Homo sapiens: one gene and its partners. The protein of the gene in region 1 purifies or fractionates together with the protein of each later gene. This does not show direct contact. Each region holds a gene or a part of one and is shown in the gene's direction. Other genes may lie near its edges. The genes, in order: CA14, PEX19, LTN1, SAAL1, SLC38A7, KIF14 and EXOC7.

Region 1 (3,479 bases):
TTTAAATAGGCCCCCCGACCTTTCCACAGAGGTGTCCGGTTTCAGGGCTTCCTTTGCAAAGTGCTGGAGCAGAGGGAGGAGAGACTGCAGAGAGGGAGGTGGAGCAGTACAGAATGCCAGAGGGAGGGGAGTGTGGAGGCCAGGGTTCTGCCCCAGGCTGCGCTGGCTGTAACCCAAACTATTCTGCCTTGCAGGTCAACACTGGACGTATGAGGGTGAGCAGATCTCAAGGCCTCCCGACAACCCTTTCACACTGGGACCTCCTCACCTGGCAGGAAGACACACTGTGCGGGTGGGAGGAGACTTCCTTTACCTTCTCACCCTAGCTCCTCCCTTCTGGATCTCCTCCTGCCTTGAGTTTCACATATATGGCTCCTAGATCCTGCTCTAATCATCAAATCCTACACCTCCTGATTTGGCAGAAAAGCTAGTTAAGTCCTCAGTAAATCGTGTAGGAGTGAGGGAGCTGGGGTGGAAAGGAAGCTGGGTGGGAACTCTGAGCTTAGCTGCCAGGTCTCCTTCTGGCTCCGTCTATCCTAATCCATCCTACCCCTAACCTGCATCTGAAATTGGGACAGAGCTGGAGGTCAGGGGTGAGGAAGAGGCTGGCAGGATAGTTTCTGACCCTGGGGGAGGTGGAACTCAGTTCCTATGAACTACTGATTAATGACTTAACCAAACTCAAGTTCATGATAAACGGTCAGTGTGAGAGCAAGAAGTGAATGATGAGAAGTCAGGATATCTGAATCCCAAGGCCACTTGATAGGGGCCTCCAGGAGACCGTATCTCTCTAGGTTATTTTTTTTTTTTTTTTTTTTTTTGACACAGAGTCTTGCTCTGTCACCCAGGCTGGAGTGCAGTGGCGCAATCTGGGCTCACTGCAAACTCCACCTCCTGGGTTTAAGTGATTCTCCTGCCTCAGCTTCTCGAGTAGCTGGGATTACAGGTGCCCACCACCACGTCTGGCTAATTTTTGCATTTTTAGTAGAGATGGGGTTTCACCATGTTGGCCAGGCTGGTCTCGAACTCCTGACCTCAAGCGATCCACCTGCCTCGGCCTCCCAAAGTGCTGGGATTACAGGCATGAGCCACTGTGCCTGGCCTATCTAGGATCATTTTATTTCTCCCATTTTTCTACTCCTACTCTCTAATCCCATCTCTCAGGGTATTCAGGTTTTCTATGCATCCCCTCTGCCCTCATTCAGCTTTCTTGTCCTCAAAATACAGGTAAGTAAAAGAGCTACCACTCCCCATTCATCAGGATAGTTGGGGAATCATCACTGCCTCTGGGTAGGGAAGGGGAACTGCAGCATGAGACTCAACAGGACTCCTACCTCACCCATCCCTATACAACTGGGGTCTTAACCTGGGTGGAGGGAAGTCCATTTCTACCTCCACACAGATGTATGGCTTGGTTAGGGGAAGGGTCAAAGGGAGGGGGTGCTGTTGAAGGGTAGCTAGAGCTGGAGGACAGGACCAATGTCTTTGGTAACCCCCACCAGGCCCACATGGTCAGGACCATTGGCCAGCCTCTTACCCTGAGTGTGGAAACAATGCCCAGTCGCCCATCGATATTCAGACAGACAGTGTGACATTTGACCCTGATTTGCCTGCTCTGCAGCCCCACGGATATGACCAGCCTGGCACCGAGCCTTTGGACCTGCACAACAATGGCCACACAGGTAAAAGCACAGGCTCCAAGGAGTTGTAGGCTCCAGCTCAGATCTTAGGAGTCAGATCCTTTTGTAGTTCATGGGCATGATGATGGGGTGTTCCTGAGCATGCGTAAGATGTGCCGCCCTCAAATCTTGTCAAGATGTTGGCACATTACCCATCTGACATAAATAAACAAACAAATAACCTCAGGAGTCAGAGGAAAGCAGCATTTTCCTAACCTACGAATTCTCAAAAACCTTTGTCCATGAATTTGGAGATATGAGAATGGGGATCAGGATCCTGTAGCCAAAGCGGGAATCGAAATGTTTATAACCAAGCTCAGTAGGTAGGTATCATTGCACTGACTTGGTCTTCACCAAGAAAAAGGAAGATATGCTAGAAAAGCACTGGCCTATGGGAGGAACTGGGTGCTACTGGGGGAGAAAACTGGAAGAGGGCCAAGTCTCCCAAGAAGTGGTGGCAACCCAGGAGTGGGAATGTATCCACATGCCTCCACCAATCCGAGTTTGCTCTTTTCCTCACAGTGCAACTCTCTCTGCCCTCTACCCTGTATCTGGGTGGACTTCCCCGAAAATATGTAGCTGCCCAGCTCCACCTGCACTGGGGTCAGAAAGGATCCCCAGGGGGGTCAGAACACCAGATCAACAGTGAAGCCACATTTGCAGAGGTACCAGGGAACAAAGAGCTGGGACTCAGACAAAGTAACAGGGATGGGTGGTCCTGGGGAAAGGATCTGGACCTTAGGAAAAGTCATGCTGGGGGGATAAGGCCAATCTCTGAGGGACAGACTTAGTGCCTGCCGGGGACAGCGGGGGGATGGTGGCAGCTAGGATCAAGGCCTTGAAGGGGGTGCAGACATTCCATGATTCAATTCCCTCTTCCTTCCTTTAGCTCCACATTGTACATTATGACTCTGATTCCTATGACAGCTTGAGTGAGGCTGCTGAGAGGCCTCAGGGCCTGGCTGTCCTGGGCATCCTAATTGAGGTCAGTAGCCCCCAGTCCCTTCCAGGTTTCTCTCCACTTCCTCTGCAACCCTCAAACCTATTTCTGTTGCTGGCCTCCTTCCTATGGCAGGCAGCAGCCCACCCTGACCATTTATTCTGTACATAAATTTCTTATTCCAAACATGGACTCATTCCAAACTCTCTCCCTTTCCTTCTCTTCCAGGTGGGTGAGACTAAGAATATAGCTTATGAACACATTCTGAGTCACTTGCATGAAGTCAGGCATAAAGGTGAGCCTTAAAAATCTATAGCAGGAAGTAAGATTAGACTTTCAAAAACTATCCTTAAAAGCCTTGGGATGAAGCAATTACATAGAGCCAAGGAATTTTGCTTCTGGGAGCCCTATCTAGGTAAGCTAGGGCACACTGAAAGGAAGATGAGTCCCAGTCTGTTCTCCCCAGATCAGAAGACCTCAGTGCCTCCCTTCAACCTAAGAGAGCTGCTCCCCAAACAGCTGGGGCAGTACTTCCGCTACAATGGCTCGCTCACAACTCCCCCTTGCTACCAGAGTGTGCTCTGGACAGTTTTTTATAGAAGGTCCCAGATTTCAATGGAACAGGTAAGTGGTGGAGAAACGAGGTGAGGTGAGACACAGTTGTAACTTCAGACCCCTTCCCACTCCCCAAAGTAACACCTCTCCCACGCTTCTGCTCCTCAGCTGGAAAAGCTTCAGGGGACATTGTTCTCCACAGAAGAGGAGCCCTCTAAGCTTCTGGTACAGAACTACCGAGCCCTTCAGCCTCTCAATCAGCGCATGGTCTTTGCTTCTTTCATCCAAGGTGATTCTGCACGGCT
Region 2 (3,990 bases), about 10 Mb from region 1:
TGGAGGGGCTAGGCATGGACGAAGGGGATGGGGAAGGGAACATCCTCCCCATCATGCAGAGTATTATGCAGAACCTACTCTCCAAGGATGTGCTGTACCCATCACTGAAGGAGATCACAGAAAAGGTTTGTGAACTTCCATTTCTGCTTTTTCTCTTCATTTTCCATCACATCAACTGATGTGGGCTATTTTGTCTACTCAGAGCCTGCAGAAAGAGTAACTCGAGTGTGCTTTTTTTCCTTCTTTATTTATTTGAGGCAGGGAGAGTTGGGGGTTGGGGAGAGTTGTGTCTCTGAGAGAATAAAGCTGTCACACGGTATGTTGGGGTATAAGAGGTATAACGTTTGGGGTCTAAGAGGAAATCCTTCAGTTCTAGTTTTCTATAAACTGGTTCAAGACTCTGGGATTGTTGTCTGATCAATCTTGCATTTCTGACTTCATTTCTCCAGCAAGAATTTGGCTGGGCATGGTGGCTCATGCCTGTAATCCCAGCACCTTGGGAGGCCGAGGCGGGTGGATCACCTGAGGTCAGGAGTTCGAGACCAGCCTGGCCAACATGGTGAAACCCCGTCTGTAGTAAAAATACAAAAATTATCCTGGCGTAGTGGCTCACGCCTGTGATCGCAACTACTCAGGAGGCAGCAGGAGAATCACTTGAACCTGGGAGGCAGAGGTTGCAGTGAGCTGAGATTGTGCCACTGTACTCCGGCCTGGGTGACAGAGCAAGACTCCATCTGAAAAAGAAAAAGAATTAACTGAGGATTTACTTACTGGCTTTGTGATGTGAACAGTGTAAGCGTAGTTTAAATGATGGTCCCTGCCATAAAAGAGCTTATATGTGTGGTTGTATCATTTTGTTTTGAGACAGGGTCTAGCTCCAGTTGGAGCACAGTGGCACGATCTTGGCTCACCACAGCCTCCCCATCCCAGGCTCAAGTGTTTCTCCCATCTCAGCCTCCTGAGTGGCTGGGACTACAGGTGTGTGCCACCATGCTTGGCCAATGTTTTCAAAATTTTTTGTAGAGTTGAGCTCTCACTATATTGCTCAGGCTGGTCTCAAACTCCTGAGCTCAAGTGATCCTCCCACCTCAGCCTCCCAAAATGCTGGGATTACAAGTGTGAGCCACCACACCTGGCTAAAGAGTGTATAGTTTTACTGGAGAGATAAAATACAGGAATAGAAGCTTTTCAGTGACATGGGGAAATGTGGGTAAGTGTGTAATGAATAGTACAGACCACGAGTCAGCAGGCCAAGACCTGGGTGGGACAAATCCAACTCTCTAGCAAATAATGGTTTTTACATTTTTAAGGTCATTTGAAAAAAACTACAAAGAAAATGTGCAATAGCCGAGCGTAGTGGCTCACTCCTATAGTCCCAGCGCTTTGGGAGGCCACGGTGGACAGATTGCTTGAGCCCAGGAGTTTAAGACCAGCTTGAGCAACATGATGAAACCCTGTCTCTACAAAATACAAAAAAATTAGCCAGTCACAGTGGTGCACACTTGTAGACCCAGCTACTTGGGGAGGCTCAGGTGGGAGGATTGCTTGAGCCTGGGGAGATCGAGGCTGCAGTGAGTGGTGATCACACCATCACACTCCAGCCTGGGTGACAGAGTAAAACTCTGTCTCGAAAAAAAAGAAAAAAAAAACACAATAGAGACCATATGTGGCCCTTGAAGCCTAAAATATTCACTGTCTGGCCCTTTACAGAAGCTTACCAATCTCTGGTGACCATAAATGCTAACATGGCCAGGTGATCTGGTTGGAGTCAGTGCCGCTTTTCATGATGAACTTACTTATTTAGCTTTTCGTTTTTCTACGTCCCTTTCCCTTTCACATTTTAATCACATTGTTCTGATTACCCATCCATATCCATTGTTCACTTAATTCTTTTCCACCCATTCTCTCTTTTCTTAGTATCCAGAATGGTTGCAGAGTCATCGGGAATCTCTACCTCCAGAGCAGTTTGAAAAATATCAGGAGCAGCACAGCGTCATGTGCAAAATATGTGAGCAGTTTGAGGCAGAGACCCCCACAGACAGTGAAACCACTCAAAAGGCTCGTTTTGAGATGGTGCTGGATCTTATGCAGCAGGTAAGGCCTCTTGCCTTCTGCCCACTGGTGCTGTCCACTTAGGTGTTCAGTGAAGGAAGTATCTGGGAAGGATGCAATACTGCTAGACCTAGGTGGAGGAGGGATCCTCTCTTGTGATCTCTCTCAGAAGAAATAGAGAGATCATTCATTAGATTCCTCTTCTGGATCCTCTGTTGTTTTCTGGGCTTTTCTCTATTTCATGTTCCATTTTCCTTATTTTCTAGCTACAAGATTTAGGCCATCCTCCAAAAGAGCTGGCTGGAGAGATGGTGAGTATGTCTTATTTTTCCAGATTTTAATTTGAGTCCCCAATTTCCAGAATTCTTTAACCTCTCAGGATTCCACCTAAGGTGAAAATTGTGGCTACTGGGGATGGATCTTCACGTCTGTCCTAAAAAATGAGCAACTATCTGAGTCCCTTCATCTCTTCCCCAGCCTCCTGGCCTCAACTTTGACCTGGATGCCCTCAATCTTTCGGGCCCACCAGGTGCCAGTGGTGAACAGTGTCTGATCATGTGAAACACAACACGTTTTCCTCTCTGAGTCCCAGCTATGGGGAACATCTGGAGTCAGCAGAACCATTGGGACCTGAGGCAGGAGTGTCACCTGCGGGAGAAGTCTGCCCGCTGCCCTCTGTCATCCCATTCAAGATTGTGCCATACCAGCTGAGGTTTTTCCTCTGTCTCTCTAGGAATAGGGTCTGTTTCACAGGCCATTTCTGTGAACCCTACTCCATTGTGGTTTCTGCCACTATCAAAGTTCCAGCTACCTGCAAGGTGAAGGAAGGCATCCCTTTTGGGGCATGCACTTTCTTTCCTTTCTCAAAATAATGTTATATGTGGCCACACTGATGTTCACCTTTACGTCCAGGGTCTTTGTGCCTTGTCTCTACTCCCTCTCTTGGATCTGGGGAGGAGGGGCAGAGACCTGGGACTCTGTATTTCTATAGTTCTCCTGGCAGAGCCTTTGAGAATGGGGAGAAACAGCCTGGGCTGGGGCTACAGGTCTGTCACTATGCTCTCTTGCCTTCAGACAGACCATTCTGAATTCTCTAAAGGGAAAGGGCTTTTGCATCTAATCACAATAGAGTTGAAAGAGAGGCCTTAGGATTCTCCTCTCTCTAGGTGCTGAGCCCTCACCTCCCTGTTCCAGGCTGAGAACTCAAATGGTTACCCTGCTTCTTCCTACAATGCTGTGTGATATGGGTGAACCCAGCCCCTGACCTTCCTCTATCCCCTGCCCATCCTCCCTTTTACCTCCTCTCTTTTTTAAACACCTGTTTATCCCAACCTTTTTGAGCTCAAGCTGTGATAAAGAAGGGCCCATCCTATTTCCCCTCATCTAGTCCATTTACGATTCTCACTGACTCCCCGTCTTCCTGGCAGACACAAATAAACCCAGTGTCAGGTCTAGGAAATTAATGGCTATTCTTCCCCAGATACATTCTGGCTTATTTGAGATACATGATTCTCTTAGAATCCTGTCCCTTGGTTCAGGAAAGTAGCTTGGAAAAGGAGTAGGGGTATAGCTTGGGTCCCTTTTCCTGCAAGGCCCCATGGGGCAGAATATAATAAATATTCTGAGTGAGGAGTGTGGTCTTTTTCTGATCTTCCTCAGCTTCCGTAAGTTGCAGAGTGAGGTATATTAGGAGACTAGTTCTACACAATATTGTAATGCTGGGTTCCATCAACACCCACCTTCCACAACTCAGTCTGCACCTCAGTTGGCAAAGGAGACTGGATGGCCATCTTTCCTCATGTTCCCTTGAGTATTTCAATGTAGAAAGCCCTTCAAGTGGTATTATATTTTAACCTTTTACATTATTGTTATTAATGTTAGTAATATATTGTTATGTTTTCTAAATTATTTTTCTTTAAGCTGACGTGGCTTTTTTTC
Region 3 (4,194 bases), on another chromosome or scaffold:
AAAGCCTGTAGAACATGCAAGAAAAAATTCCATTCAGCCTGCTTGGTAAGTCTAAAGAGAAATTAACTTACTTATATTTTATGTATTTTATACACATAAACACACACACACACACACACACACACACACACACCTACACAATGTCTAACTTCGGAAGAGAAAATGTGTGTTAAACTTAATTGTAGCTAATGGGAGATATATTAAAAAGTGATTTTTTAAAATCTGCCAAAGATAATTAGCAGTTTACTGAGACTGGTAGAATCAAGGCCCTCTAATAAATGGGTGTTTCCAGTGACCTTTTACCACTCAAGAAGTAGAAGGTCTTCTGAGATCTAGACCATGAAGGAGAGTACAGGAGTTGGTACTGGAAGCCATCTGGCATCAGAGCCCTGTGCTCTTTTTAAACATACTGAAAAAGAAGTTGCCATTTGTTCATTTGTTTCACAGGAGATTTCTTATATCTTAGTGATTGTGTGCATGAGCCTAAGTAGGAAGAACTTAGTGTAGCCATCGGAAGTAATACTCAATTTGTGTTAATTTTGGAGATAACAGAAAGAGCAAAAATTTTATTGTTCTTCCCTTTTCACTTTATCATTTGAAGGTTACTATAGATGTATGTGTACTTTATGATGTATGTTAGAGGAGAACTTTAAAAGTTCTTTTAGTATTTAAAACCTTTTCTTTTTCAGTACAAATGGTTTACATCTAGCAACAAATCCACTTGTCCACTGTGTCGTGAGACGTTTTTCTGAGATTTTTTTCACTGGAAGGGATCCCTGAAGTACATCAAACAAAGGCATTGGATTTGGATCCGTCTGAAAGTGTGGATGTGGGGAAGCCAGTGAGCATTACTTTTAAATAGGACCTTCTCTGGAAAATTATTTTGGTTAATGTAATAATCCTAAAATCAGGTTTACTTAACTTTAGATTGCTTTGTAAATGTTTGGAAACTTTCTTTTACAAAAGAATATTACATATTTGAGAGAAAATATTTCTATTAATGGTTTAATTTCTTTGTATATTTAAAAATAAATATGAAAAACCCCTAAATTACAGAATTGGAATTTGTGAAAAGATTGCACAACTATATTATTGATAAACCCATTCCGTTTGTTGATCTGTGTTTTAGAATAGTCCAAGTGAAGCAAAACGAACTGAGAGAGCTGATTTACATCTATAGATATTTTAAGCCTTATTTATTAGTTATGACAATAAATTAGTATTCTGATATTTGTAGATTATTTTAATGATAAAAATGACACTAAGCTATTAATACGGCTTGTCTTAAGATATCTGGAGGCATGCTCTGAAATCCTATATAAAAGAGTTTAAACTGAACTTTAAGGTGCCTCCATTTATCAAGGGTTATGAAACTCAGAAAATTAAATTCTTGATGCTGACCTTTTTGCTTGTGGGAGAATTATTTCTATATATTAGTGAAATTTGAATTGTAAACTTGTCAGTGAATTTATCACTCTGAGCGAGTCTCTAGAGGGTGAGAATTTGAGAGAAATAGTAATTTGATTATTTCATTCATGAAGCGGAGTGGTAGTTATCCTTCTATTGAGAGGGAAGAAATAAATGAGTATTACTGAAACTTAAAGATCAGTGGAAAAAAAAAACATTTAAAAATGTTGTAGGAGACTTTCAATTTTGGAAGCAAACTGAGCTATTCTTACCAGCCAAAGTTATACTAAATAAGAGACTTGGGGGAGCAAATGTTTTTCAGCCTTCAGAAATGAAAGTTAAGGATTTTAGCACTAGGTAAAATTCAGTATAATAGGCTGAAGTGGAGTAAGTGAAAACCTGCCTTTTGCCACTCTTAAAAATTGTGCCCAAAATATAAAAGTGTGGAACTTTAGAACTTGGAATAATTTTATTGCAGTCTTCCATTACATGGAAATAGCATATCTAATATCTAGGTTACTTGAGAGACCAGCTAATCATCTCTGTTGCACATGTTTAATTGGCAAAAAGCAATTCATGATAAATAAAATTACTGCTTTCCATCTACTGGGTAAAATGACTATTGAAATAGTATGAATGTGGTCAGAGGATTATAGTTGAGAGTGAAGTACTATGTGTGAGTTATAGATCTCTCGAATTATATTTATAGATGCAGTGTCCTGCCCAGTTTTGTTTGCCTCCTACATTTTACTGTAAAATATTTATTGTCTTCTAGCCTTGAGCCTCTGAGGGTCAGTAAGTGAAGTACAGATAGCAAAATTTTACTACCTCGTTAACCCTTTTCTTAAAATATTCTCTATCTTTCTATGTCTCTTTCTGACATAGTAATCCCAAAGGATTGTGTTACTCCCCGTGAAAGTTATTACTTTTCCTTTAAAAATGGTTTTATAATAAGACTGTTTAAAACCTTTCCAGTATTGGTACATCTTGGCTTCTGGCCCAAACCCCAAGCAGAAAAGAAAATGGAATAATGGAGCATTGTTTTTCCACATTAGTATTAGGGCATCAGATTCTTGGTGAAACACTATAATTAAGTAGTTATAATTAAATAACTGTTCTTCATACTTAGGACTCTTAATACATTTCTTTAAGACTTGTAAGTATAATTGTAAAGCTTGTTAACTGTTTATATACTAAAGAAAAAGCTTTACAAGATAAGACTGAAATTCAGAATACCACATCTGTACAGCGTTGACAACTCTAACTAAAAGGATTACAGCCCTTAAAATTTTAGCTTAAGGACATTTTAAAATTGCATGAGATTAGCAAAATTATTAATTTAAAACCCCAAAGTAAATTGCAAATTTTAAAATTTATTTTTGACTCTTTTATCACATGCTCCAATGTATGTACATAAGTGTCTGTGGCTTAAATAATATGTTGTTATTTGATACATTTTTGTGGTGCAAGTAATTAATGTTATTATTTGATTGTTATACCATATGTGCCCATTAAAATTCTTTTTAATTAAAAATATTTCAAATATGCAGAAAAATAATAATATAAATGCCCTTGTACCCTTCACATACTATTTTGCCATATTTGCTTCTGATTTTTAAATAAATAAAATGTTACTCTTTTGTACTTCTCCCTGGCGCCATTCTCCTCCTTCTTTCCCTAGAGCTAACGTACTAATTCTGAAGTTGGTGTGACTCCTTCCTGTTTAAGATTTTATACTTTACCATGTGTTTTTATCCAGAAACAATGTATAATAGTTAACAAAAATTATGTTAATGATGTTTTATGTATGTAATCTTTTGTAACCTGATTTTCCACTCAACATAATGCTGTTTAGTGTCATATCAGTTTACTTACCAGTTCCCTTACTAAAGATTGTTTAAATTGTTATTTTTTTGCCATTTTGAACAGTGCTGCAAGTGTACATTCTTGATCATGTCACCTCATGCAGATGTGCTAGATATTCTAGACATATGTCTAAAAATGGAATTTCAGCCCGGCACGGTGGCTCACGCCTGTAATCCCAGCACTTTAGGAGGCCGAGGTGGGAGGATCACCTGAGGTCAGGAGTTTGAGACCAGCCTGGCCAACATGGTGAAACCCCGTCTCTAGTAGAAGTAAAAAAAAAATTAGCCAGGCATGGTGGTGTGCACCTGTAATCCCAGCTACTTAGGGAGGTTGCAGTGAGCCCAGATCGTGGCACTGCACTGCAGCTTGGGCAACAGAGCAATCAAGACTCAGTCTGAAAAAAAAAAAAAAAAAAAAAAAAAAATTTTATATATATATATATATATATATAAAATAAATAAAAATGGATTTCCAGGTAGTAGGATGTGTATACTCTGTCACTTTAGATGTCTTCAAATTGCCCTCCAAAGTGATATGCAAGTTTGCTCTCCCAGCTGCAGTTTAAGAGAATTCTGGTTTTCCTATCTTGTCACCAACACGTAGTCTTATCAGAATTTTTAAGTTCTGCAGTCTGAAAGCTATGAGATAGTAGCTCTTTGTTTTAACTTATATTTCCTTAAGAAGCCTAGCTTCATTTCATATATTGGTCATTATTTGACAGATTTTTGTCCATAATCTATACCTATTTTTCTGCTAGGTTACTTGTATTCTTACTGATCATAATGCTTTAGCTCATAGGACTTCTAATATGTGGCTTGTCTTTAACATTTTCTGTGACTATCTTTAATCTCACAGAATTTTTCGGTTAAATTTAATCAGACCTTTTTTTTTTTCTTTTATGATTGAGCCTTTTTTATGTTA
Region 4 (4,577 bases), on another chromosome or scaffold:
GTGCGAGGACCAGAGACCTCCAGATACTTCCTGCACTTTCACGTGTCCATGGGCACTATTCATGCCGCTCTGCTTAGAATGGCTTCCAGCTGGCAAAATCCTTCTCATTGTTTATGGCCCGGCTTCAATGTCACCTCCTCTGTGATGCCACCCCAGACACTCCAGTCAGAATTAACCTGTCTTGTTTTGGTGTTCCCACAGAATTGCTTCACTCTGTTACATGTGTCCTCTGATGGATTTAAATTCCTTCTCATCAAAGCATAATGTCACCCCTTCTGAAATGCCTTCTTTTCAATGTCATGTCTAAAGTAGCCCGCTTTATCTTGGTTTCTAGCACATATCTTATTTTCTTTGTAGCATTTAGAAATTGTGTAGTTTAGTTGTTTTATATTTATTGTTTGTTCATTTCTTTAGAATGAAAATTCCATGGGACTGAGCCCTTATTTAGCTTGTTCACTGATGTATCCCCAGAACCTAAAACAGTGCCTATTAGGTTTTTCAGAAAATATTTGGGGAGTAATGAATGAATAGATGAATACCTGAGAGGTAGCATGTTGTGCTGGTTAAGAACATAGTCTCGCTGGGTACTTGCCTGTATTCCCAGCTATTTGGGAGGCTGAGGCAGGAGGATCACTTGAGCCCAGTAGTTGGAGGCTGCAGTGAGCTATGATAATGCCTGTGAATCTGTGAATAGCCACTGCTCCAGTATGGACAGGATAGCAAGACCCCCATCTCTTTTAAAAAACAAGACCATAGGCTCAAATCAGACTCATGGGTTCAAATCCTAGCTTTGCTCTGCTGAGACTGTATAATCTTGGGCAGGTTGCTACACTTTTTAAACTTCAGTTTGCTTATGAGTGTAATGGGGCTAACAATGATAACTAGTTGATAGAGTTGTTTTGAGAATTAAATGAGATAGCATGCAAGCCACTTCACTGTGCCTGGCATTTAATACTTGTTCAATGAATGTTAATTTTATTACTGTTGGTGTTGATATTGTTAGGCCACCCTTGTGCTACTCCAGGAATTACCATTAAATTTAAAAATTTCTGCATGTGGCAAAGAATTGCCCACAGGACAGCTTGATCACTTACAGTGAAGAGAATCTGCCATTATGACTTTCAGTTTAGAGTGTATCTTTGAAAATACTATTTTCTCTGACCATGGTCCTTTAGTAAGTAGAGTGTGTCTCTCTCAGTCAGTTGTCTGGCAGGTTACTGGTTTCACTTGCTGTGGAGAATAATTGCCTGTCTCTTTGAGATGTTCCAGGGCCCTTAATTTTCACATAAGCCATGCAGCTTATATTTTAAGTTAAGGCTTCTCAAATACACACCTCACATTTAGTGAAAATCTGAAGCAGTGGACAGCCAGAGACTTAATTTTATTTATATATTTTACATTGCAGGTCCCCAAGCAAACTGACTTAGCTTTTGTGTCTTACATTCCTAGGTGAGATTTGGCTCATTTGGGGCCACATGTCCACTCACATGTCACCTGTGTGTTACGCCCCTTTAGGCACTGTGGCAGACTCTGTAGGAAGAAGTTATGAGGCTGCCACAGTTACATTGTGATCAGAATTTTTATTCTATTGATGATTTTGAAAACACAAATTCTGGTTTTGGACAGGACCCAATAGCAGTTCTTGACTTCTTTCCCCTACCGTGTTTTAAGCTCTTGGAGGACAAGAAGGAATTTTGTTTTTGTTTGAGACAAAGTCTCACTCTGTCGCCCAGGCTAGAGTGCAGTGGCGAGATCTCAGCTCACTGCACCCTCTGCCTCACGGGTTCAAGCAATCCTTCCACCTCAGCCTCCTGAGTAGGTGGGACTACAGATGGTACACCACCATGCCCAGCTAATTTTTGTATTGTTTGTAGAGATGGCGTTTCACTATGTTTGCCTAGGCTGGTCTCGAACTCCTGGGCTCAAGTGATCCGCCTGTCCTGGCCTCCCAAAGTGTTAGGATTACAGGCGTGAGCCACCTCGCCCAGCCAAGTTTTACCTTTTTTTTTTTTTTCCTTTTTTTCTCGCTGTGTTGCCCAGGCTGGAGTACAGTGGCAAAGTCATGGCTCACTGCAACCTTGAGCTCCCCAGGCTCAAGTGATCCTCCCACCTCAACCTCCCAAGTAGCTGGGACTGCAGGCATGTGCCACCACACCTGGCTAATTTTCGTATTTTTTGTGGATATGGGTTTTCACTATGTTTGCCCAAGCTGGGCTCAAGTAATCCACCCACCTCGGCCTTCTAACCAGCCTCCCAAAGTGTTAGGATTACAGGTGTGAACCACTGCGCCCAGCGTGTTGCTTTTTTCCCTTGTCCCCCGCTTCTAGTTTAATACCTGATAGGTAATCACCAAATGTGTTTGAATGTGTTTAATGAGAATTCCTAGTGGGCAGAAAAATTATTAAGGTAAATAGATTCGGGCAGAAAAGAGTGGGATAATCCTCTGGAGTATTGTAGGTAGTTTAGATTTGTTTATGAAATTGTTCCATTGTCTGGGACTAGTTACCATAAAGACTCTCTAACATCACTTTTGTCTGTTGACACAGTTCCTAAGCCTGTGTTTTTTTTTTCTTGTGTCTAAAATTCTAATTTTATTTTATTTTTTTATTTTTTTTGGAGACAGAGTCTCGCTCTGTCACCCAGGCTGGAGTGCAGTGGCGTGATCTCAGCTCACTGCAACCTCTGCCTCCCGGGTTCTAGCGATTCGCCTGCCTCAGCCTCCTGAGTAGCTGGGACTACAGGTGCATGCCGCCATGCCCGGCTAATTTTTTTGTATTTTTAGTAGAGACAGGGTTTCACCGTGTTGCCCAGCTGGTCTTGAACTCCTGAGCTCAGGCAATCTGCCAGCCTTGGCCTCCCAATGTGCTAGGATTACAGGTGTCAGCCACTGCGCCTGGCGTAAAATTCTAATTTTAATATAGAATTTTATGGTTGCCTGAGCTTTAGGGTTTAGGGAGGAATATTCAACATCCAAGTTAATAATCATTTTTCTTTTCAGGACGTGGCTTTATTTCTCCAAGAATTTAATGCTCCTGATATATTCATGGGAGTACTGGCCAAGTCCAAGTGTCCTCGATTAAGAGTAAGTATGTACATTTCTAAAGCCTTCTTCTTTGAAGCAATAAGAACAGATAGTGCTGGATAGTCTTTTATTTTTCTCACTTTGATTTTCTTACTGACCATAAATCAACAAATCAGCCTGTAGATGTTAATTGAACATTGCCAGGTCCTAGGTAATTTGCTATTTAAATTTATTTTATTTTATTTTTGAGACAGGGTCTCACTATGTCTCCAGGGCTTGGAGTGCAGTGGCGTGATCACGGCTCACTGCAGTCTTGACCTCCTGGGCTCAAGGGACCCTCCCACCTCAGCCTCCCAAGTAACTGGGAGTATAGGTGTAAGCCACCACACCCAGCTAATTTTTATTTTTATTTTGTGGAGACAAAGGTCTCCTTATGTTGCCCAGGCTGGTCTTGAACTCCTGGCCTCAAGTGATCCTCCCACCTTGGCCTCCCAAAGTGCTGGGATTATAAGCGTGAGCTAAATGCCTGTAATAATTTAAAATATTAAATTATTAATAATTTAATAATTTAAAATTATGAAAATCATAGAATTTTAGATTCAGGCCGGACCAGGGAAATTAGCACTTTCATTTACCAGCTGTGGAGACGAGTTAGGCATAACCACTGTTATGCTGCTAGTATGTATCAGAACAAGGAACAGAGCCTGGGCCTCCCATTTTTCAGTTGATTTCTCTTTTTTACTGACAAAATCCACCATTGCTTGAAAACCATTCTAAACTCAGCCTGCTGCTTAAGACCTCTACTCTCTGAACCTAACTCATCTTTCCAGCATAAAATCTGGATAGCCAGGTAACCCTTCTGATTTAGCCAGACCTTTCTACTCCCTGTCTCATGCTGTCTCCGTGCCTCCCTTTGTGTGCCTTCTGTCCCCTCTCAGTATTTGCATCTGTTAATTCACAGTGGTACTTTTCCTTCCACACCTTCCCAAGTAAGTAAGTAAGCTTTCAGTAGTCATTGCTGTTAGTAAACTGCCAAGAACAATAGATAAAGACTAAAGGAGAGGCCTTTATATACTGTGCAGTGTACTGTGCTTTATTGCCAATTAAATTGCCATGTGCTATGCATATCATGGATTAGTAAATATCTGTTCAATAATTATAATTATGAAAAACTGCTGTTTACTGAATACCTGGTCTTACTACTATGAGGTATACTTTCAAAGAACTAAATCTTGGGTGAAGATATGTGTTCAGGGTCACACAGCTAGGAAAGAATGGAGCTGAGATTTCAGCCTAGGCCTGACTTCAGTATAACCACTGTACTGTATTTCCTCTCTTTCAGATTATAAAATGGAGAATTCCATAGTGTATTTTTACAAATTGAATGTTGAATTAGAATTCTTATTTAAGTAGAATGTTCTCTCTGAATTAGGGCCTGATTAACCGTTTTTTCCTTGATTCCTTATATTAATATAAGATTTGATGATTATGCTATTTTTATACTGAGTTTTTCTGTCTTAAATATATTTACTCACTACTAGTATATAAAGAAATA
Region 5 (4,577 bases), on another chromosome or scaffold:
CTTGAAATCTGGCCTTCTTCCTGCTCTTTCTCCCATTAGCTATCCCAGGGCCTCTGTGCCCATTGTTACCTGGCCAATAGCACCAGGCTGTGGTTTGAGTTTTGTTTGTTTGTTTGTTTTGAGATAGAGTCTCACTCTGTCGCCCAGACTGGAGTGCAGTGGCGTGATCTGGGCTCACTGCAAACTCTGTCTCCTAATTTCGGGCGATTCTCCTGCCTCAGCCTCCTGCACAGCTGGGATTACAGGGGTGCACCACCACACCTGGCTAATTTTTGTATTTTTAGTAGAGATGGGGTTTCACCATGTTGGCCAGGCTGGTCTCAAACTCCTGACCCCAGGTGATCTGCCCACCTCGACCTCTCAAAGTGCTGGAATTACAGATGTGAGCCACCACACCCGGCCCAGGCTCTGGTTTTGATCAGTGTTCTGCTCCCTGCTTGCTTAGGGCTGGAGAGTCTCAGGCATGGTGGTGGTGGGCAACATGGGAAGGGGCATCTGCAGAAATAACAGCAGCAGTGACCATTTATTGAGTCTTAAACCCTTACTGATATTAACACACGACCCACAGGAACATATGATGTAAAGGCCTAAAGGGGCGAAGTGACTTGCCCAGGGTCACACAGATAGGCAGCGGAGGAGTCAGCATTCTGACGGCAGAACCTACTCGGAGACCCAGATCACAGCCCTGCCCAGGGCTGCTCTTGATCTGGGGGTGGACTTGATGCTTTAGGACCATCATTTCTCTGCGGGTCTCAGGCTATGAGCTGAACCTTGAGAACACTGAAGATCCTTTTTCAGGGCTGGGCTCCTCAGAGCCTCTCGAGATTCTTGGAAGAAAAAAAACTGCATCTCAATTGTGTTTATCCAGAGAGCAAAGAGAATCAGTCAGGTGATAAGCCTGTTATCTGAGTTCTGCCATACCCAAGGTACCATCTTGGACCCAGGAGTGGGGCAGATACAAACAGATGGATGCCCTATGGTCAGACAGGCCTGGGTTTGAATCCCAGCTCCACCACTGACCGCCATATGACTGAGGGGAGAGTGGTTATCCCCTCTGGGATTCAGCTTCCTCTTTGGTAAAATGGTGACTGTCATGTCTACCTTTTAGGGCTGCATTGAGGATTGAATGAGAAAGCATTCCATAGCTGCAGCAATAGTGGTTTATAGTGACAAACAGCACTGCATGTTTGGCACTGATCATTGTAATCTAGCCCAGGAAAGCAAGCCTAGTGGCCAGTGAGATGCTAGCACATGAGAGAGTACTGAGAAGAAACCAGCTAGAGTGGTTCTGGGCCCCTACATGGCTCCAAGAAGAGCTCAGTGAGTGACCCAGGAAATGGGGAAGAAATAGGACCTAAAAGGGTGGCGGCAAAGGAGTTGGGAGCATTAGAAGCATGGGATGAATCACTGTTTTCCTGAAGACGCAAACATGACAGGCATGGGGGCTTGTCACATGAGAGAAGAGTCGAGAATTGGCCTGAATTTCGAAGGGCCTCGAAAGCCACAGAATTCAGACTCCAGGCCACCGGGAGGCGTGCTGGACTGTAATATGTTGAATCTCAGTTCTTGGTAAGGGGTCCTTTTGGGACCCTGTGGGGTGGAAACAGGCTGGGAAGCCAGACAGATCTGGATCCAAATCCTGCTATGCAACTTGCTAATATATGACCCTGGGTCAGTGATGGGATCTCTCCGAACCTTTTGACCACAAGACCATCCTAAGGATTGAATGAGATAAAGTATATCCATGACACACCTGCCCGATGCGGGGCCTCTATCGAGTGCTGATGTGTTAGTACCCATTTTATGTTGACATCTAACTGGTCCATTGAGTCTGTATGCCTGAAGCAAGCATGATTTGCACCTGATCTGTTTCTGTGTCTGTCTCCCCATACTCTGGCACCCAGTGCACTGTCTGCACAGAGGCATACCTGGGTTTGGACCCTACCCATGTGATCTTGGGAAAGTTATTACACCTTTTTGTCCCCTAGTTCCCCCATCTTAGGATAACAGTAGTGCCTGCCTTTGTCCCATCTAGGTTGAGAAGAGTCCTAAGCTAACAGCCCCAAACAGGTGGGTGTTGCTCAGCTCCCTGAGGCATGTGGTTGTAAGGCAGAACCCACAGACCTTGCAGGAAGAAGGCTCTCGGGGCCATGGCCCAGGTCAGCATCAACAATGACTACAGCGAGTGGGACTTGAGCACGGATGCCGGGGAGCGGGCTCGGCTGCTGCAGAGTCCCTGTGTGGACACAGCCCCCAAGAGTGAGTGGGAAGCCTCTCCTGGGGGTCTGGACAGAGGCACCACTTCCACACTTGGGGCCATCTTCATCGTCGTCAACGCGTGCCTGGGTGCAGGGTTACTCAACTTCCCAGCAGCCTTCAGCACTGCGGGGGGCGTGGCAGCAGGCATCGCACTGCAGATGGTGAGTGCACTGGCCGGGAGGGCAGAGGTGCAGTTCAGTTGGGCGCTTTGCCTCAAAAGGGAGGCTTCGGGTCAGGGATGGCCAGTAAGTGATACACGCACTGCTCTCCCCTCCCTCACACATGGCAGACATGACTAATCTATTCTAGTATTCTTTCCTGTGACCCAAATGAGGCTTCAGAAGCCTTCCAACAATCAGAGAAATTTGAACATCAATTACATCTCTAATTTTTTAGGTGTAACATTGATTTTGTGGTATGTTTAAAAAGAGGGCCCTTATCTTTTAGAACTACATACTGAAATATTTATTGATGAAATGATATGATAGCTTATATTGGCTTCACAATAAATGCAGAGTGGGAGGGAAGGGGAATGATGAAACAAGTTGGCCATGCATTGATCATTTTTGAAGCTGAGTGATGGATACATGCCAGTTCTTTTTACTATTCTCTTTACTTTTTTCTTTGAGATGGAGTCTTGCTTTGTCACCCAGGCTGGAGTGCAGTGGCCCGATCTCGGCTTACTGCAGCCTCTGCCTCCCAGTTTCAAGTGATTCTCCTGCCTCAGCCTCCCAAGTCGCTGGCATTACAGGCACCCACCACCATGCCCAGCTAATTTTTGTATTTTTAGTAGAGACGGGGTTTTACCATGTTGGCCAGGCTGGTCTCAAACTCCTGACTTCAAGTGATCCTCCTGCCTCAGCCTCCCAAAGTGCTGGGATTACAGGCATGAGCCATCGCATCCAGCCTATTCTCTTTACTTTTGTATGTTGGCAATTTTTCAAAAAACTTTTTGTTTTTAAAGAAAATCTCAACTCGGCATCCTCTAGCAGTCTCTTAAAATTGCCTTTGTGAGATTTGCCAAGCTTGCTTTGGGCACTGGCCCAGTAAATGCTAGGCGAGCCCAGGGTGCCCTCTGCTGCCAGGCCTTTGCCACAAGCTCTTGTTCTGCCTCTGCCTGCAGGGTATGCTGGTTTTCATCATCAGTGGCCTTGTCATCCTGGCCTACTGCTCCCAGGCCAGCAATGAGAGGACCTACCAGGAGGTGGTATGGGCTGTGTGTGGCAAGCTGACAGGTGTGCTATGTGAGGTGGCCATCGCTGTCTACACCTTTGGCACCTGCATTGCCTTCCTAATCATCATTGGCGACCAGCAGGACAAGAGTGAGCTTCTCCCTCAGTCCCTACCCCATCTCTTCTTATCAGCCCCAGGGATCCTGGGGTGGAGGGAAAAGGCACTGAACACCTCTCCAGGACTTACCTGGGCCCAGCATTCATCTGGGAATCCTCCCTCCAGGCAGAGGGAGGTCCTGGGGCCCAGCAGAGCAGGAGGGCCACACCCCATGGTGGCCTGGCTTGACATTCCCTCCTTCCTCCCTGTGCAGTTATAGCTGTGATGGCGAAAGAGCCGGAGGGGGCCAGCGGCCCTTGGTACACAGACCGCAAGTTCACCATCAGCCTCACTGCCTTCCTCTTCATCCTGCCCCTCTCCATCCCCAGGGAGATTGGTTTCCAGAAATATGCCAGGTTTGGAGGCCCCAGCCTGGGTCAGACAGAAGCTATGATCCTGGGCAGCTGTAGACCCAAGGGCTCCTGGGGAACCCTGCTCCTCCATGCCACCTCACCTTGGGGAGCAAGAGTAGGCAAGGCAGGGCAGACCGGGGCTTGCAGGGTTTCAGATAAGACCATCCTTTTCTGTCTCCATCATAGAAAAAGGATGCATCCATGAGAGATTCAGTTCTAAATGTCCTTTTGCATCCATGAGTAGTTCAGTTCTAAGTGCCCTTGTCAAAGAAGGAACAGGTGGTATCTGGGCGGTGAAGGCAGCCTCCTGGCATTCCCTGGGAGGAATTTGGGTCTTTGAGACTGTCAGCCTACCAGCATCTTACCTGCAGCTTGGCATGAAGGAAGGAGACTGGTTTCCTGTCTCGGTGTCTGAAAGGCTGTGGGATTCTAGGCTTCCCCGTCTGTAAGTGCAGGGGCCATGCTCCGCTCTCTCCAAGGCTCCCATAAATGTTGACACAAAAGTGTCTGTACTCTCAACCCTCTTACCTCTGGCATCTCTTAGTTCTCAAAGGCCAGGCTCAGAGGATGGTCTCCCACAGCCCCTGCCCGGGCTGGGCTGCTCTGATTCAAGTCCCAGGTGTGCTTTGGAGCTCT
Region 6 (4,829 bases), about 50 Mb from region 1:
AAGAAATGAAAACTAATGCCATGGGATTGATTAGATCTCTTGAAAACATCTTTGCTGAATCGAAAATTGTAAGAGAAGCTTTAAATTGATTTTAATTTTGCTTATTTTTTATCATTTCACTTGGTTCAAATGTAGATATTTTTATTTCAGTGTTTATCCTTAGCCAGAGACAACTCTTTTGTATATGTCTAATTGTAGCATGTAAGATAGCTCTTTGTCTTTTTTATGTGTGTCATAACTTACTAGTTCTAGTAGTGGATAAAGGATTGTATAGAAATTTATTAATATGTCTGTTTCTTATTGCTACTGGTTTAATAACTGTCAGCTTTTGCTTGGATGGGTCATTATAGGCTAAAAAATTGTGTTTAATAATCATTGTGCTCAAAGATTTTAAAATACAGTTGAATTAGATAGATTATTCCCATGTCACAGGTAAAGAGAAAAATTAAGTATATGATCAATGTGTTAAAAAGGAGAGTAATTGCTATGGCTTGAAAATTTTTATTTAAATAAATGAGAACTATTATAAAGTTGAGCTCTTAAAAATGAAATAAATGTATCTTTTAAAGTATTGAATAATAAATGGCACTGTTACTTTATTCCATTCTCATGTAATAGGATGACAGACTTTGAAAATTAATTGAAAATTCTGATTTCTTTTGAAAACAGTAATTACTATTGTATTTTGGTCTTGCTTATAGAAATAGAGTTAAGCACTGGTGAGGAAATTAAACTCTCTTTCTTAAAGAGAAGATTCTGGCAATTAAAATCATATTGACTGAGCCTTACTGCCATTGAGCCTGTTAATGTATTATTTTAAATATTAACTTTATTTATACAGAAAAGTTTCAGAAGGCAAGTACAAGAAGAAAACTTTGAATACCAAGATTTCAAGAGGATGGTTAATCGTGCTCCAGAATTCTTAAAGTTAAAACATTGCTTAGAGAAAGCTATTGAAATTATTATTTCTGCACTGAAAGGTATGATTCTCCAAATGGAGTTTATAATCAGAATTTTATATTTTAAGGAACCTTAGACATCTTTCCTTTTTTTTTTTGAGATGGAGTCTCGCTCTGTCACTCAGGCTGGAGTGCAGTGGCTCGATTTCAGCTCACTGCAACCTCCGACTCCTGGGTTCAAGCGATTCTCCTGCCTCAGCCTCCCAAGTAGCTGGGATTACAGGCATATGCCACCATGCCTGGATAATTTTTGTATTTTTAGTAGAGATGGGGTTTCACCATGTTGGCCAGGCTGGTCTCGAACTCCTGACCTCAAACAATTCACCCACCTTGGCCTCCCAAAGTGCTGGGATTACAGGCATGAGCCACAGTCCCCGGCTGACATCTTTCCTTTTTATTTCTAACCTTTTCATTATTTTAGTCATTAACTGAAGCCTACCCAATGCTACTTCACTGATATTAGTTACCCATATAGGAACTTGTATTTATAATTAAATTCCCACTTAATGTATGTATCAGTACTTCTACCTAAATAATTAGATCCTGAAAAACCAAGTGCTCATCTAGCAAATAAACACTTTAGTTGACTAATCTTAAGTAGTTTGGAATTGTTTTGATAGGGTCACTTTGACTTAAAAGATATCTAGAGTCTATAAAAGTCATAAATACCTGATGAAAACTGAAAAGGCTAATTAACTTTTCCCTCCTCTCTTGCATATAGGATGCCATAGTGATATAAATCTTCTCCAGACTTGTGTTGAAAGTATTCGCAACTTGGCCAGTGATTTTTACAGTGACTTCAGTGTGCCTTCTACTTCTGTTGGCAGCTATGAGAGTAGAGTAACTCACATTGTCCACCAGGAACTAGAATCTCTAGCTAAGTCTCTCCTCTTTTGTTTTGAATCTGAAGAAAGCCCTGATTTGTTGAAACCCTGGGAAACTTATAATCAAAATACCAAAGAAGAACACCAACAATCTAAATCAAGCGGGATTGACGGCAGTAAGAATAAAGGTGTACCAAAGCGTGTCTATGAGCTCCATGGCTCATCCCCAGCAGTGAGCTCAGAGGAATGCACACCCAGTAGGATTCAGTGGGTGTGAATACTGATGTGTAGGCACTTTTATGACCACCCATGAAAGAAAAAGAACACTTGCTCGGTAATTTTCTTTATGCAGGAGAGTTTAAGAGAAATCAGCACAGATATTTCAAAAAAGTCCATGTCTTTTTATCTTTAAAATATCTATTTATCAAAGGCCAGACACAGTGGCTCACGCCTGTAATCCCAGCACTTTGGGAGGCGGGCAGATCACAAGGTCAGGAGTTTGAGACCGGCCTGGCCAACATGGCGAAACCCCGTCTCTACTAAAAATACAAAAATTTGCTGGGCATGGTGGCGCGTGCCTGTAATCCCAGCTACTAGGGGGGCTGAGGCAGGAGGATCGCTTGAACCTGAGAGGCAGAGGTTGCAGTGAGCCAAGATCATGCCACTTTACTCCAGTCTGAGCAACAGAACGAGACTTAGTCAAAATAAATAAATAAATAAATAAATAAATAAATAAATAAATAAATAAAATATATTTTTATCTTTAAAGTGTTTAACATTGGTATACTGTCTGTAGTTGGTTCATTAGTCGTTTATAAAGGGTTATTTTCTCATGAGTGGAAACCTGAACAATCAGTTACCTTTGTGCCTATGCCTTCTCTCTCCTCAGACAGCTGGGATGTTTATGGTGAAATGGCCTGTACAAGTTTAACTAAGACAACTTAACTTGCATTGTTAATCAAAAATTCTTTTCTCAAAGGGTTAACTGGTTGCCATTTTGAATAGTATGTTCAAGGGTGTAGCTTCCTGTTTCTTTCCAAATTATAAGTAGCTACCTAAATATAGTATAATTATATATTAATAATATGGCTTGCTGGCACAGTAGTTTACCCTGTTATCTGTGTTTCATAATGGGGGCTGTATGAATATTATTTAAAACTAATAAAATGTTGCCAGAATTATACTAAACTGTTGGATGAGATTAGGAGATCAGAGGCTGGACCTTCTCTTGATAATGCTTGTTTTGTTAAAGGTATAATGAAATAATTTGTATATGATTTGATGAAGATTAAAGACCCTTATTTTCCACAGCTTTAAAAAAAAACCTTTATTTATGATCAAGTAATAAAGATAATATTCTACTTGTGGGATCTTACATTACGGAAATAGTTTGACGTTTTTGACCTCAAGAGTATGTATAATTTGAAGAGATACTTTGTAACTATGCTTGGGTGATATTGAGCAGTTCCTAAAGAATAATTCATTTAAAAAAAAAGAAGAAAAAAAAAGAAGAATTCATTTAAATAACCTGATCCTTTCATTTGCCCTTTTCGAATTTACAGATACTACTTGTACATTTGGCATAACTAGTTGAAATTGGCCATTCGTACCATGAATAAATCTGATAGTTTCCTTGTTAGGAAGAGATTGTAAGTAAATACAGTCATTGCAGTCAGAACAGTATTAGTGAACCTTGTGTGGTGTTTTCAAGCTCTTTAAAATGGTACAATGTAGCACATTTGCTTTCATTTCTTTTTTTATTTTTGGCATTTGACCTTGTATTCTTTCTGAAGCTCTATATGTGTTTTTATTAGTCAATAATCTGGCAAGTAGCACTTTGCCTGTGCAGTTTGCTGGAGTGTAGATGTACATATGAGGATTTCCCGGGAGGTGCACTTCTTTGAAGAACTTCCTAAAGTACCTGTATAGTAGTTTTCATCTTAATATTCAGTATTTAATCTTCAGTTTGTGCTTTGTAAACTCATGACTTAATTGGTCAGAAACTTTTTAGTGTCTTTATAAAATTTTGTATACATATTTATACTAAACACATTGTGATACTGTATTTGAATGAATGGTGAAAAAATATTTGCTATTGGAATTATGTGCACTGACAAGAAATGTTATAAAGAGAATGCCTTTAATAAATCTTTTCAGCATTAGAATTGCTTCGTGGTCTATGCTTTTTTATTTTACTGATTTTCTTTGTTTATTTTACTCTTCATTCAGAATAGCTCTGCCTTGATAATAGCTAGGCTAGTGTTGCAAATCAAGTTAATAATTAGGAAACACTAAACAAATATTAATATTGCCATAACAACTATTTTTTTTTAACATTGTTCTGCCTCTCTTTAGTTGATTATGCCTGGAATAGATTTATCACCATGTGGTATGTGTAAAGAGCATGAGCTTTGGAGTTTGACATATTTTTCACACGTTTGGAGTGTGAATCCCAGCTGGACTGCTTAGTAACTACATGACCTTAGACATGTTACTGTCTTCACTCCCATTCCTTCATCTGCAGAAAGAAAAGTAATACCCACCTCATGGACTATCTATCTATGAGCACTTAGTGAGAAAAATGTGGGAATAACTGCTGGCAAGTAGTAGACTGTTAGTGAATTTATTTTCTGTCCTTTTCATTACCAGCTACAAAACCCTTGTTATGTATATAAGATCACACTTGGTGCAGGCATATGCCATTTATAACATTCTGCCAATGTGCCAAATTGTATTGCAGTCCTTTATGGCATACCTGAAAATATATCTGCCGTCATTTTGTTCCATGATAATAAATGGACAATAAAGATAACTAAACATTATCTTACTGCTCTTAAGGTATAATGTGCTATGTGTCCTCCATGGAGTCAGTCCATCTGAAAGTTTTAGCAAAAGGCTGTTTTGTCTAGTTAGCTAACTAGCATACTTGAGTTTACAGAGCCTAACTATGTGCCAATAAGCATTTCAAGGTTTTCCCTAAATATGGAAAGTAAGAATTAATCACAGGTGAGGGGAAAAGGTATCAGTAGTTTGGTTCAGTTAAAAA
Region 7 (4,577 bases), on another chromosome or scaffold:
GAGCATTTCCATAAGAGCAGTTCTTCCTCTGGGGTTCCCTACTCCCCTGCTATCCCCAACAAGAGGAAAGACACACCTACCAAGAAGCCAGTCAAGCGGCCAGGTGAGCCCCCATCCTGGCCCATCTCTGCAACAGCCAGAGGCTGACTGGGACTGTACTGCTTTAGTCCAATCTAGCGTTCGCAGCGTCAGGCCCCTCCAGAGCTTGTCGTCGTGGTAACCCCGACTGTAGGTACACAGGACAGAAAGCAAGTGTCTACCCACCCAGTGAAGCCCCCCAAGAGCAAGACTCTTCCTTCCAGCTAGCAGAGCCTGGGGTTACACAGCTTCTTTGGAGTAGGGGAGTAACACAGGTGCTCAGCGAATCCCGCCTGAGGCAGAGCCCCTGCCTAGGCCTCCTCCCTCACACACACGTCGCCCTGTCAGAAGGCCAGGCACACTACTGCAGCCAGGATGCTGGGATAGCAAGGGGATAGGTGCTCCAACCTTCACCTTCCAGAAAGGCAGGGTGATCTGAAGTGACGTGTAGCTGAGAGCTGGATGGGGAGAATTTCACTTTCCCAGTTGATCCAGAAAGGAAAGAAACCCCAGAGCATCCTCTCGGAAGAACTTAAACTGGCTTTGGGCTCCAGTGCGAGCGAGTGACTTGTGGAAAGGGGCACCATGATGAGAGGCCGGGGCCGGTGGGTGTTGCTGTCCTGGGTGAACATCTCGTCATCTGTCTGTTCTTTCTCCCCGGCATCATATCCCTTATAGTCTGTGCTCCAGGTAAACAGTGTCTCTGCCAGCCACAGCTTGGCAAGCCCGGCTATGTCTGGCCACTGAGAGATGCTGCCCGCAGCTCGATGATGTGCTGGGATGTTCTGGGGTGGGGCTGCTGAGATTGCACTGAAAAAGAAAGCTGGAGAAGCCGGGGCTGCTCCCACCCAGGCTGGCCCCCTGTCCAGCTGCTGCTGTGGGCACATGCCCTAGTTGTGGCCTGTGGCACCTGCTTATGACAACAAGCTTTGGGTAGAGCTTACTTACACCCTTGGTTTCTCCAGTCCCTGCCTGCTCATGCCCCTCAGAGAGTGAGGTGTCTGTTCCACAAGAGCACCCGCTCCCCTGCAGGCCTTTGTTTAGGGTTTGGAGAAACAGGCAGAGCAGGGGCTGCCCTCAGGGAGTAGAGCATTAGGGAGCTGGTGCCTGGGGCCTTCTCCCTCCAGTGTGGAAATCCTGCCCACCAGCCAAAACCTGCTGCAAATGGGGACTGCCAGCCCAGCCTGTGGGCGCAGCTGCCTGCACAGTGGATGGAGCAGCTCTGTGCCTTCTGTGTGGTGGGGAGTGGCTGTCTCTATGAGGCTGCTAGGATGCTTGGGCCCCAGCCAGTCTGTGCTTGCTTCCTCTTCTGCCTGGCTCCCTGACAGGTCCCCCAGAAGCCCCAGAGCCCTATTTGCACTGCCTTAAGAGTGCCCGCTGGCCATGCAGCTACCTGGCCTTTCAGGCAGGAGGGATCTGATCTCAGGTGGCTCACAGTGGACCACATCCATCCTTGGGCCAGAGACACTAGAGGAAAACTCCAGCTGTGGGGTTTCAGAGTTGTCAGGAACTGGTGGGCTCAGGACCGATGTCAGGCTCTAGGGAGTCAGGCTCTGGGGATGTCGGTTCCCACTTCTGAGGAGAGGGACAGGGAGGCCTCCCAGGTGGTGAAGCACCGACCTCAGCATCCCTGGAGGCAATTGGGAGCCTGACGGGTTTGGCGGCTGCTAGATCCACATCGGCGACCCACATCCTGCCGGCGTGCACCTGCGTCTGTGTCTGCTCCTGGTGGGTTGTGGGGCAGGAATCAGATTCACTCATTAGTAAGCCGCACTCGCTGAAGGGGAGAGCATGAGCAAGGGAGACGTGAGCCAGGCCTTGGTTATTAGGAGCTAATTATGGGCCAAGTATGGTGGCTCACGCCTGTAATCCTAGCACTTCGGGAGGCCGAGGCGGGCGGATCACCTGAGGTCAGGAGTTCGAGACCAGCCTGGCCAACATGGTGAAACCCTGTCTCTACTAAAAATAGAAAAAAAATTAGTTGGGTGTGGTGACGCACGCCTATAATCCCAGCTACCTGGGAGGCTGAGGCAGGAGAATCACTTGAACCCAGGAGGCAGAGGTTGCAGTGAGCCGAGGTCGTGCCACCGTACTCCAGCCTGGGCGACAGAGTGAGACTGTCTCAAAAAAAAAAAAAAAAAAAAAAACAAGCTAATTGTGGTGTTGTGCGGTGCGGTGCGGTGCAGGTGTAAGCAGTGAGCCTCCAGACACTGCCCCTTTCTCCCTCAGCTTTCTGGGGAGCTGCCAGGACACAGCAGCCTCACTGTGCTCAGATAGACTGTGGGGGTGGGAGGCATCCCGGGTGCCTTTCTGCCCCTATACATTTTGTTAACAAGGCAGCTGCACTTGTCTGCTTGAGATGCGAGTTGATTTCCCGACGTCTTCTGGCCCGAGATGTCTCATTCCCACAAAGGAGGCTGACCCAGGCGGCTGTGGGTGCTGCCATTTTGTTCTCATTGTTTTCACTTGTGATACTAACTATTGTTTTTCTCCCCCATGCCAAGAGCATGTGCCCTCTCCTTCCGTGCACACCCTCCAGGCGCTCTGTGTGGTGGCTTCTGTTAACCCCTTCTTGACTTTTGGATTTTTTCTTGTCGCTTTGGTGGTTTGGGGAACTCTGGTGTGGGGCTAGGCTGCCTCTGGGTCTCTGAGCCGTCCGCCTTGGGCACAGCGCTCCCCCGGAAGTTCAGTCAGGGTGGCTTCCTGCTGGCTGCTGTTTGGCGTACGTCCCAACACTGAGCATGCTCGGAGAACTCTGCCTGGAGTTTGGGGCTGGGCTGGGGGCCTGCTGGCTTCAGGGTGCCCCCCAGGCTCTCCCACCCTGGTTGTGCCCTCTGGGTATGCGAGCTTTGTCACGGGCTCCTCCGACCTGAGCCCTCGCCTGTTCTGATTATGATGCCACTCCATATTTTTGACTTCTCCTGGTGGATCTTGGTCCATCTTCATTACCCTCTGTCCTTTCAGAAATGAGCTGAAATCCAGAACAAGGAGGGTCGGTAGTAGAATCAAGGCTCCATTTGGAGAAGGAAATGACTCCTTTCCTTCATCCTTGTCCCCAGCGTCTCTGGTGGTCTCAGGGAAAGGCCTGCTCACTGTTGGGGAGCTGGGTGCGGGGCCTGGGGGGCAGGTGGAGGGCCGCTGCTGTTTTCTCTCACTCATTTCCTAGGTCTTCTTATCTCCTCTCTGTGTGGCTCTGGTGACAGGGACGATCCGTAAGGCTCAGAACCTTCTGAAACAGTATTCCCAGCATGGTCTAGATGGGAAAAAGGGGGGCTCTAACCTCATTCCTCTGGAAGGTAATCACCCTGTGTTCCCCTCCTGTCCCTTCCTCCTCCACTGTGTGTCCACGCACTTGGCAGGGCAGAGCCTCCCCCAGGAGGGCCTCGGGAGAAACCCTGAGGGGAGCAGGGTGGGAACGGCAGGTCCCCGATGCCACTCGGGCTTCAGCGGGCACAGGGACAGTTTCGCAGCCCTCGGCCTGGTCCTCTCTGGCTGATGGCAGCTCTGCCCTCCCTGAGGCTTCCCTCCTCCCTTCCCTGTCTCTGTCCTTGTCTCCTGTGTGAACTCAGAAAAAGTTATTTGTCTTGGGGCAGCCCTTTCACGCTCAGACCAGCAGTGGCAGGCCCCAGCTGGCCGAGGCCTCCCGGCCTTCCCATCTTTAGAAAGGGGAGTGTGTGCAGCAGAGGACAGGCAAACTGGGGCTTTCCCCAAATACAGCGAGGTGGGGAACCCCCCTGGGGCCAAGCATCAGCTCTTCAGCCCCTCCTTGGTCCTTCTCCGCTTTCCCTGGGCCTCCAGGCTCGGGGAAATGAGCAGCTAAGGACGGTCCTGGGTGCTCACTGAAGTCAGGCTTGAAACGGCTGTTCCCAAGGTGGCTTGAGGTAGAGGAGGGGCTCAGGGCCCTCTCCGATGCCCCCTTCCCCATCCCCATCTGACGTCCCCCTCCTGGAGATGAAGGGCTTCTTCCCTGTACCCCAAGGGGCGGCCTGCCTGGCCCCTGGATAAACGCTGCTTGTGTTTGTGCGGCCGACATCTCGCCAGGTCACGAGCATGATTTCCGAGTTAAGCACCTGTCCGAGGCCTTGAACGACAAGCACGGGCCGCTGGCCGGTGAGTACCGCAGCCCAGCCCGAGGGCAGCCGCTGACACTGCCTTCGCAGCGGTCCCCGGATGGCCTGCTCCTGCCTGGCCCAGCTGGGCCCACTCTGCTCTGAGGATGGGCCAGGCCTATGCGCCTCTCTCTCCACTCTCTCTCTTTTGGGCCTAGGTCTCCTTGCCTCTCTCCAGATGGGAGTGCGTGCCTGTCTGTCAGGCCTGGGCCAAGGGGAGAAGCCGCTGCTCCTCGGAAAGCAGGCAGAGAGGGAAGGTGGCTCCCTTGAGGGCAGGGAGCCCTGACGTCCGCCTCCTGCAACAATTCAGAGCTCTGATCCCCTCGGAGCCCATCCCTTGGCACATAGGACCAGGCAGTTCTGCCGCCGGTTTTGCCTGCAGGCGCCCCC

The links.
Region 2: the proteins of CA14 (region 1) and PEX19 purify together in Homo sapiens (affinity purification with mass spectrometry; 3 studies listed by BioGRID and IntAct, with this or other methods). This does not show direct contact.
Region 3: the proteins of CA14 (region 1) and LTN1 purify together in Homo sapiens (affinity purification with mass spectrometry; 3 studies listed by BioGRID and IntAct, with this or other methods). This does not show direct contact.
Region 4: the proteins of CA14 (region 1) and SAAL1 purify together in Homo sapiens (affinity purification with mass spectrometry; 3 studies listed by BioGRID and IntAct, with this or other methods). This does not show direct contact.
Region 5: the proteins of CA14 (region 1) and SLC38A7 purify together in Homo sapiens (affinity purification with mass spectrometry; 2 studies listed by BioGRID and IntAct, with this or other methods). This does not show direct contact.
Region 6: the proteins of CA14 (region 1) and KIF14 purify together in Homo sapiens (affinity purification with mass spectrometry; 3 studies listed by BioGRID and IntAct, with this or other methods). This does not show direct contact.
Region 7: the proteins of CA14 (region 1) and EXOC7 purify together in Homo sapiens (affinity purification with mass spectrometry; 3 studies listed by BioGRID and IntAct, with this or other methods). This does not show direct contact.

The regions. Positions count from the first base shown.
Region 1 is NC_000001.11:150,259,957-150,263,435, forward strand, and holds part of CA14 (carbonic anhydrase 14 precursor), read left to right. Parts: intron 1-194; coding exon 195-215; coding exon of another isoform or gene 216-292; intron 293-1,502; coding exon 1,503-1,682; intron 1,683-1,737; exon of another isoform or gene 1,738-1,841; intron 1,842-2,201; coding exon 2,202-2,344; intron 2,345-2,568; coding exon 2,569-2,664; intron 2,665-2,847; coding exon 2,848-2,914; intron 2,915-3,085; coding exon 3,086-3,243; intron 3,244-3,342; coding exon 3,343-3,463; intron 3,464-3,479. UniProt on the Homo sapiens protein: Reversible hydration of carbon dioxide.
Region 2 is NC_000001.11:160,278,174-160,282,163, reverse strand, and holds part of PEX19 (peroxisomal biogenesis factor 19), read left to right. Parts: coding exon 1-125; intron 126-1,917; coding exon 1,918-2,094; intron 2,095-2,318; coding exon 2,319-2,363; intron 2,364-2,529; coding exon 2,530-2,613; 3' UTR 2,614-3,990. UniProt on the Homo sapiens protein: Necessary for early peroxisomal biogenesis. Acts both as a cytosolic chaperone and as an import receptor for peroxisomal membrane proteins (PMPs).
Region 3 is NC_000021.9:28,927,006-28,931,199, reverse strand, and holds the end of LTN1 (E3 ubiquitin-protein ligase listerin), read left to right. Parts: coding exon 1-45; intron 46-689; coding exon 690-752; 3' UTR 753-3,056; downstream 3,057-4,194.
Region 4 is NC_000011.10:18,095,276-18,099,852, reverse strand, and holds part of SAAL1 (protein SAAL1), read left to right. Parts: intron 1-2,998; coding exon 2,999-3,082; intron 3,083-4,577. UniProt on the Homo sapiens protein: Plays a role in promoting the proliferation of synovial fibroblasts in response to pro-inflammatory stimuli.
Region 5 is NC_000016.10:58,677,700-58,682,276, reverse strand, and holds part of SLC38A7 (sodium-coupled neutral amino acid transporter 7), read left to right. Parts: intron 1-2,035; 5' UTR 2,036-2,150; coding exon 2,151-2,420; intron 2,421-3,382; coding exon 3,383-3,581; intron 3,582-3,802; coding exon 3,803-3,944; intron 3,945-4,577. UniProt on the Homo sapiens protein: Symporter that selectively cotransports sodium ions and amino acids, such as L-glutamine and L-asparagine from the lysosome into the cytoplasm and may participates in mTORC1 activation. The transport activity requires an acidic lysosomal lumen.
Region 6 is NC_000001.11:200,550,619-200,555,447, reverse strand, and holds the end of KIF14 (kinesin-like protein KIF14), read left to right. Parts: coding exon 1-68; intron 69-841; coding exon 842-980; intron 981-1,680; coding exon 1,681-2,060; 3' UTR 2,061-3,948; downstream 3,949-4,829. UniProt on the Homo sapiens protein: Microtubule motor protein that binds to microtubules with high affinity through each tubulin heterodimer and has an ATPase activity. Plays a role in many processes like cell division, cytokinesis and also in cell proliferation and apoptosis.
Region 7 is NC_000017.11:76,089,940-76,094,516, reverse strand, and holds part of EXOC7 (exocyst complex component 7), read left to right. Parts: coding exon 1-103; intron 104-3,281; coding exon 3,282-3,374; intron 3,375-4,035; coding exon of another isoform or gene 4,036-4,188; intron 4,189-4,345; coding exon of another isoform or gene 4,346-4,473; exon of another isoform or gene 4,474-4,577. UniProt on the Homo sapiens protein: Component of the exocyst complex involved in the docking of exocytic vesicles with fusion sites on the plasma membrane.